2 linked regions of the Homo sapiens genome follow. The protein of the gene in region 1 interacts with the protein of each later gene in a biochemical or structural test. Each region holds a gene or a part of one and is shown on either strand. Other genes may lie near its edges.

Region 1 (3,184 bases):
TAATTTTGTGTATTTTTAGTAGAGATATGGCTTCACTATGTTGGCCAGGCTGGTCTTGAACTTCTGGCCTCAGGTGATCCACCTGCCTCAGCCTCCCGAAGTGTTGGAATTACAGGCGTGAGCCCCCACGCCCTGCCTGCAGAGGTTTTAACTGACCTCCTGACATGTTTCCCAGAGACACAGGCACTGGGAACTTTTGGAAACAATTCTGCTTGAGCTGCTAGGGTGAAATGTACCCCACTAGCCACATCCCCCTTGCAGTATATATTTTGGTTTTGATGTTTTTGTATGGTGCTTGTGTGCAAGGAACAAAAAAACAAAGGTGGCTTCCAAGAGGGGCCTAGGGGAGACTGGGAAGAACTGAACAGGTTCCCAGTACTGCCCAGGTGCAATGTAAGCCATTTGATTGCAGTGGGAGAAAAAGAATCCATGAGACAGGATTAAAGCCCATTTCAGACTTTTCCAAAAAAAAAAAAAAAAAAAAGTGCAACGAGGGAAGCTGTCTGATCCAAGGATCTGTCAATCAGAGAATTTTAAAAAAGGTGAAACAGTTCACACACCCTCCCTCCCTGCCCACCACGCCACCTGCTCCTGCTCCTGGTATCCAGGTAACTCCTGCTATATGCCTAGGCACATGTAAAATGACCATTTGGGTCCCAAACACATCCCAGATTGTGTCATCTGCCCCCACACCTGCCCCGGTCTCATGACTTGCTCCAGGGAACATCACCATCCGTCCAGGTGAGAAGTCTGGCAGTTGGCCACCAGATCCTGCTCACCTCCTGCCTCAACACCTCCCCATTCTGTCTGCTCTACCTTGACCACACCTATTCCACTCCCAGGCTCCCCACTTCCAATTGGGCCACCTCTACACAGGTTTGGGTTTGTCCACTGCATGAAACCTCAATTCCGCAGTCTGACATAGGGGGTCTTCCTTCTCCAGTCCTTCCTTCCCTGCGTCTCTCCCAGGCTTCTCTCTTCCTGTGTCCCTGAAGCCAGCTTCCAAGGCCCAGGCTGGGCGTGCACATCCCCAGGGCCCCTCTACATCCGGCTTTCTGCCCTCTCGCGTCTCGCGCCTGCCTGCAGGGTCGTGCTCAAGGGTGTCGGCCCCCTCACAGGGACCCACTAGGAGCAGGATCAGAAAAAAGGTCCACATGTCCCAGGAATGTGGCCACTTTGTAATCCACCCTCCAGGCCCCCCTGACAGCCTGGGAGCGAAGTGGGAAGTGGGCCCAAGAAGCCGACAGAGCACGGTCCTCCATGTGCAGGCACACTCAGCACCTGCTCCTACAGCATCTGGCTCTGGGCCTGGGGGTAGGAACAAGGGCTGGCAGAGGAGGGCCCGACCACAGCTCGGCGGCTGAGGTAGCTGCAGGAGAGGCTGGCGGTGTGCTCAGAGCCCGGGGCACAGTGGCCCCGGACCTCGGCAGTGTCTGGGCTGCCCTCTCGGCCTCCATCTCCCTGCTCAGGCCGCAGAGGACGCGGTGTGGCCACTGTCACCAGGCCAGGGGTGAAACCATCCCGGAGCTGCGCAGGCCCTCCCCGGCCTGCAGGTCACTCAGCGCTCGCTGGGGAGGGGGAACACAGAGGTAGGGTGGTCAGTGGTCCCAGGAACCTGTGACGCCTTCCCTGTCTCTTCCCACACTAGACAGCCCATCAGGGGGTTAGGGGGACATGTCGCTCACTGGAGCCCCTTTCCCAGCCCTGGCTTCATGGAGGATCCCTTCATTTGGCCTCTGGCCCCCACCTCTCCAAAAGGGCCCCTCAGGGCTCCAGCGAGGCTCACCTCGAATTTGCTCATGAACTCTGCAAAGATGCCGAAGAAAGCCTCAGAGGTGGTGGCCTTGGAATCCTCCCCAAAGAAGGCCAGCGCCTTGCCCAGCTCCTCCATGGCCTCGCGCTGCAGCCCGTCGAGCGCCCGAAGTGCTGGCTGGGCCGTCTCCAGGAAGGACTGACAGGCCTCAGTTAAGGAAACAGCCAGCCCGCTTGTGCCCCCAGGGTCTCAGGTGGTGGCCCGACAGACAGGTCCCTAGCAGCCCTATTCCCGGTTGGCCTGAGTCCTTCCAAGGGCCAGGCCCTGTGTCCAACAGGGAACCAGGCCCTGTTCAGGGACTCTAGTCCCACTGGCCACTGAACTCATCCTGGAACTGGCCACAGCCAGTGCAGCCTCAGGCCATTCACCCCTGTTCTCTCTGCAGGGCCAGGCCCTGGGTCTCTGATCAGAGGCTTCCACTGCCACCTTCTTCCCCAACCACTCATTTACAGTAGGCCCCTCTGTCACTCTCTAGGCCTTACTTTTTTTTTTTTTTTTTTTTTTTTTGAGACAGGGTCTTATTCTGTCGCTCAGCCTGGAGTGCAGTGGTGTGATCACAGCTCACAGATCATTCCAGCCTCTACCTCCCAGGCTCAAGTGATCCTCCCACCTCAGCCTCCCGAGCAGCTGGGACCAGAGGTTTACACCACCATACCCAGCTAATTTTTTGATTTTTAAAATAGAGATGGGGTGTATGTTGCCTAGGGTGGTCTCAAACTCCTGGGCTCAAGTGATCCTCCCACTTTGGCCTCCCAAAGTGCTGGGATTACAGGTGTGAGCCACTGCACCTGGCCTTAGGCCTTACTCTGTTTTCTAGAGCATTTGTCATGATCTGAAATTGTTCATAAGTTCATTTCCTACTGCCTAAGTGAAAGCTCGCTCCCTCCTTGCACCTCCAGGGCTTAGAATAGCATCTGATACATGGTCAGTCTTGCAAAAAGATTCAGTGGCTGAATCGCTATCATTTTTTCAGCACTTAAAATGGTGCCGAGCTTTGTTCCAAGCTTGTTGAATCATCGTTTAACACCTCTATGAGGTAGATTATCTCTATTTTACATGTGAACAAATTAAAGCACACAGGACTTTAGCAACTAGCCCAAGATCACACAGCAAGCACTGTGGTGCCTGAGCCACGGTTGAACCCACCAGGGTCACATCAATTAATGACCACTGTGGTAGAGGTTCTCATGACCCCTCTTTTTCCTGATGAGAAAACTGGGCTCACAGAGGGTAACTGACTTGCCCATAGTCCCACAGCAGGTAAGGAAATGAGCCAGGATTTGGGCCTATGCCTGTCTGATGTGCCAGGTCAATTTCCTTTGCAGAGGCTGCCTTTAATTAATTAATTAATTAATTTTGAGACAGAGTCTC
Region 2 (3,500 bases), on another chromosome or scaffold:
ACAATGTCTGTTACAATAAAATACATTAGACATTTAAATAAATAACCTTAAAAACTATGTGAAGGGACATAAACCCAGTCGATTGAATCTGGAACAATGTTTTCTGCACAAGCGAGTACAGGCATACCTCTCGTTAAAACTGATGTAAACAGAACGAACCATCACAATCCTAAAGAAGAAGCCAAGCGGGGCGGGGGTAAGGTGGGGAGAGGTGGGGTGGGGTGGGGTGAACGGAGGCCAAAGTGGGTGAGGGAAGTAGCAAACCAAAACAATACTGACTGAGGTAGCAAGACTCTGCTCAGTGCAGAAAAATTGGCTTATGAATAAAAATTAGACTGTGATATCAAATTAAATCCGGATCATCATGCAAAAGACACAATACATGCTATTTAGTTTTAGAAAAAAAACCACACACATTCATTTCCTAAAATCTGCTGCCAATTAATTTGCTGACAATGTCTGCTGGCTCAACTATTTTTTTTATACAAGGATGAGTATTAAACAGAACACTGTACATGCTTTTTCATCTACAAAAAAATATTTGCATAAAATAGTGTTAGTTCTCTGTACATGTCAATGGACACTTTAATTATGTGTATAAAAAAGGAAAATCTTGCCCCACTGGAGTCAGAAAAAGCAAAACAAAATCTAGAGTATGAAACCTCCATCACCAGCCAGTATGTTCATGTGAAAATTCAGCAGAAATAGACAGTTGCTTTAAACAATAAAAAAATTAATTGATTAAGTTAAACATCTTCTTTATGGAAAACTGTCAGTCAAGACCAGAACATATCGCTAAAGTTAGTGTCTGTGCTATAGACCCAGATCACCAGGGGCATTATGAGCAGCACAAACGGCCAGGAAATCCCATCGGTGCATGCCGAGAACGAGCAGGATTTGGTGGCAGGCTGCACACACTCTTTACCAGGTTCCAGGTAGTTGCGGGCCACAAACTTGAGCGTCTCATCCATGAGAATCACGGGCAAGGAGATTTTCAGCACCATCAGCCACTGGGTCACGTTCAGCGGTGTGATCTGGAAGATGAGCTGACACACAGGGAAGACGTGTCACGCCTCCAGCCTCCCCTGGAAGGAGGTGGCTGGTCCCAAGCCCCACCCAACCACTTACTGGCAAGGGTTCGACATAGAGGATCAGGAAGTGGAGTGACATGGACAGGCAGATGGAGCCCACGAGCCAGATGTTCTCCCAGGGGGGCATCCTCAGCAAGGACTGGTTTTCGGACAAGCTGCAGAGCAAGGAGAGGTGGGGAAACGCACCCCCAAGGCAAGGCACGTGTCACAGTGGCAGTAAGACCCTGTTGGACTACACTTCAGTAAGGCGGCTGTTAATGTGGCACCATCCGCTGACCTACCTCCACTTTCTACAGTGGCAAAGTTGAAGAGAATGTCCTAATGCAGGACAAACTGTGAATTCTGTATCTATGTTTTGGCATAGCAGACCCCATCTTAGTGGGTTCAAAGCTGTTCCCAATTGCCCTGGAGACTTGGGCTATTTAGAAATTTCCATTTTTGTCACGGGCTTAACTGGATGGTACCATTTGTCTGTGTGAAAGGGTGAGGTTCCTTCCCTGTGGGTGCTGGCATACAGGGGTACCAAAGTTCCTATTTTTGGCCCCCACGGTTTCTTTTAAGGAAGAGCTCCTAAGAAACACAGGGCTAAGCACTCCCACTACTTCCTGGAGGTGACGACAGCTCATGCTTTTAAAACTGGTATTGCCTGTTCTCCTTTCTTTTGGGAAGGGAAGAACTGTCCTGTGATCCTCAATCAACCGTGACTACACACAATTCCCCGGTGCCCTGGCAGTCACCATGCTCGCCTCAGCCTGCCGTGAAGGTGCACTAACCTGTTGAGGGCGTTACACATTTCTATAGTTACTAGAACAGAGAGCGCCATTGTCATCGGGTATGGGGATTCAAAGATTGCACAATCCACGCCTTCAAAGTCCGGGTTGTCCTCTTTACACTGTAGGAAATGACTCTGCAAGAAAATCCAATCAAATTCCTATCAGCCCAGTATATTTCCCAAGTCCAGGCTCCAACCCCATACCAAGCCTAGCACAGACCAGCCTGAATGCAGAGCCAGCCAAGAGGTTTACCCCAATTTCTCGGAGAAGCCCTGGTCCTTCAGAATCATCTTAGATGTAACTGTTTATTGTCTGAGTCTTAAGATGATTTGATAGATACCGAAACCACAGAAAGGTCAAGGCCTCACAACACTTCTCATGTAAGGTACAGAAAGAAAGGTGACTGAGTACCAGCTGGTAGAAGGACACTCTTGGACCACCGTCAGCAGCAATGAACCACCATGCAGCAGCACCCACGGTAGCAGCGCCGACGTAACCTGGGAACAAACACAGTGATGCTGATGCACTTGCCTCTGCAGGGCTCGCTGCCACCGAGGCCATGCAGGCCAGTCCCCACAAGGACGAAGATCAAAGACATGGGACAGTGATGGTAACCGGGGCCTGTGGTGCTACCACCACCTGCTCACGCCTGGTAGCCAGAGCAACTAGACCCTGGTTTCTGAAGGACAGGGGTGTTTCTAGAACAGAAGAACTGGATAACTTTTCCTCCAGAATGTGTGAGAAAAAGCACTTGCTCCATCCTGTGCCAACCTTTCCCCTTGCCGTGCCTTCTCCCCTCAGTGGGTAGTACTTCAAGGCTGCAAGTGTGTGTGTACTCCATGTAAGGCTGCACAGTTTGAGGGACTAGATTACACCAGGACTTTTGGACAAACTATTGCTGCCTAGTTGTACACAGATTTATTTGCTCCATTAGAGGCCCAGCAGCAGTTTTCTAGGGAAATGCTGTCAGGAGCTAGGGTGGAACACTGAGCAGCATGGCCCTGCCCTCAGCAGCTTCTGGGATTCCCCCCAGTATTAGCTTTGAGTTCAGGAAGTTTATTGCAAAGAAGCAACAAGGTGCAGCAGAGAATACACAGAGTTCAGACGAGGCAAATATCCCCATGTGGTAGCATCAAAAACAACAAGTGCATATACCCACTAACCCACGAATTACAGTGGAGCATGAAGGCCGCTGGCTGCAAGGATGAGGCACTACGCATGTCCGGATATGGAAGGATCTGACAAGCAGGAAGAAGGCAAGACAAGGGTCAACATGCAGGTGTGCACAGCATGCTGGAATCTCTCCGGAAGGGCACAGGGTACATGAGCACCTCAACGCCAGAGGGAAGTGACTGGCCCAAACCCTTTCCATTCTATGCCATTGTGTGCTTTTTGAATTTGAAGTCATGTGAATATATTATGAAAACACAATGCCTTCCTATGGGATCCCAGGGAAGTGATTTCACCTCACTTTCCCAATCTATGAAATGGGGAAGAACCCGGGGTGAGGAAGATGAGGGCTAAAGAGATGATTTATATATAAAAGGGACCAGCCACTGCGCAACCCTTCTCTTATGGAAACAGGGACTAAATTTTATAACTTGGTGACAATTATCTATTTAAATCCCACCTATGA

Evidence for each region.
Region 2: the proteins of GRID2IP (region 1) and ATP2A2 interact in a test that uses a peptide from one of them, tested with the Homo sapiens proteins (one large-scale study listed by IntAct).

Annotation. Positions count from the first base shown.
Region 1 is NC_000007.14:6,496,278-6,499,461, forward strand, and holds the end of GRID2IP (delphilin), read right to left. Parts: intron 1,952-3,184; coding exon 1,787-1,951; intron 1,569-1,786; coding exon 1,497-1,568; 3' UTR 501-1,496; downstream 1-500.
Region 2 is NC_000012.12:110,343,747-110,347,246, reverse strand, and holds part of ATP2A2 (sarcoplasmic/endoplasmic reticulum calcium ATPase 2), read right to left. Parts: intron 2,362-3,500; coding exon 2,276-2,361; intron 1,999-2,275; coding exon 1,865-1,998; intron 1,247-1,864; coding exon 1,129-1,246; intron 1,047-1,128; coding exon 777-1,046; 3' UTR 1-776.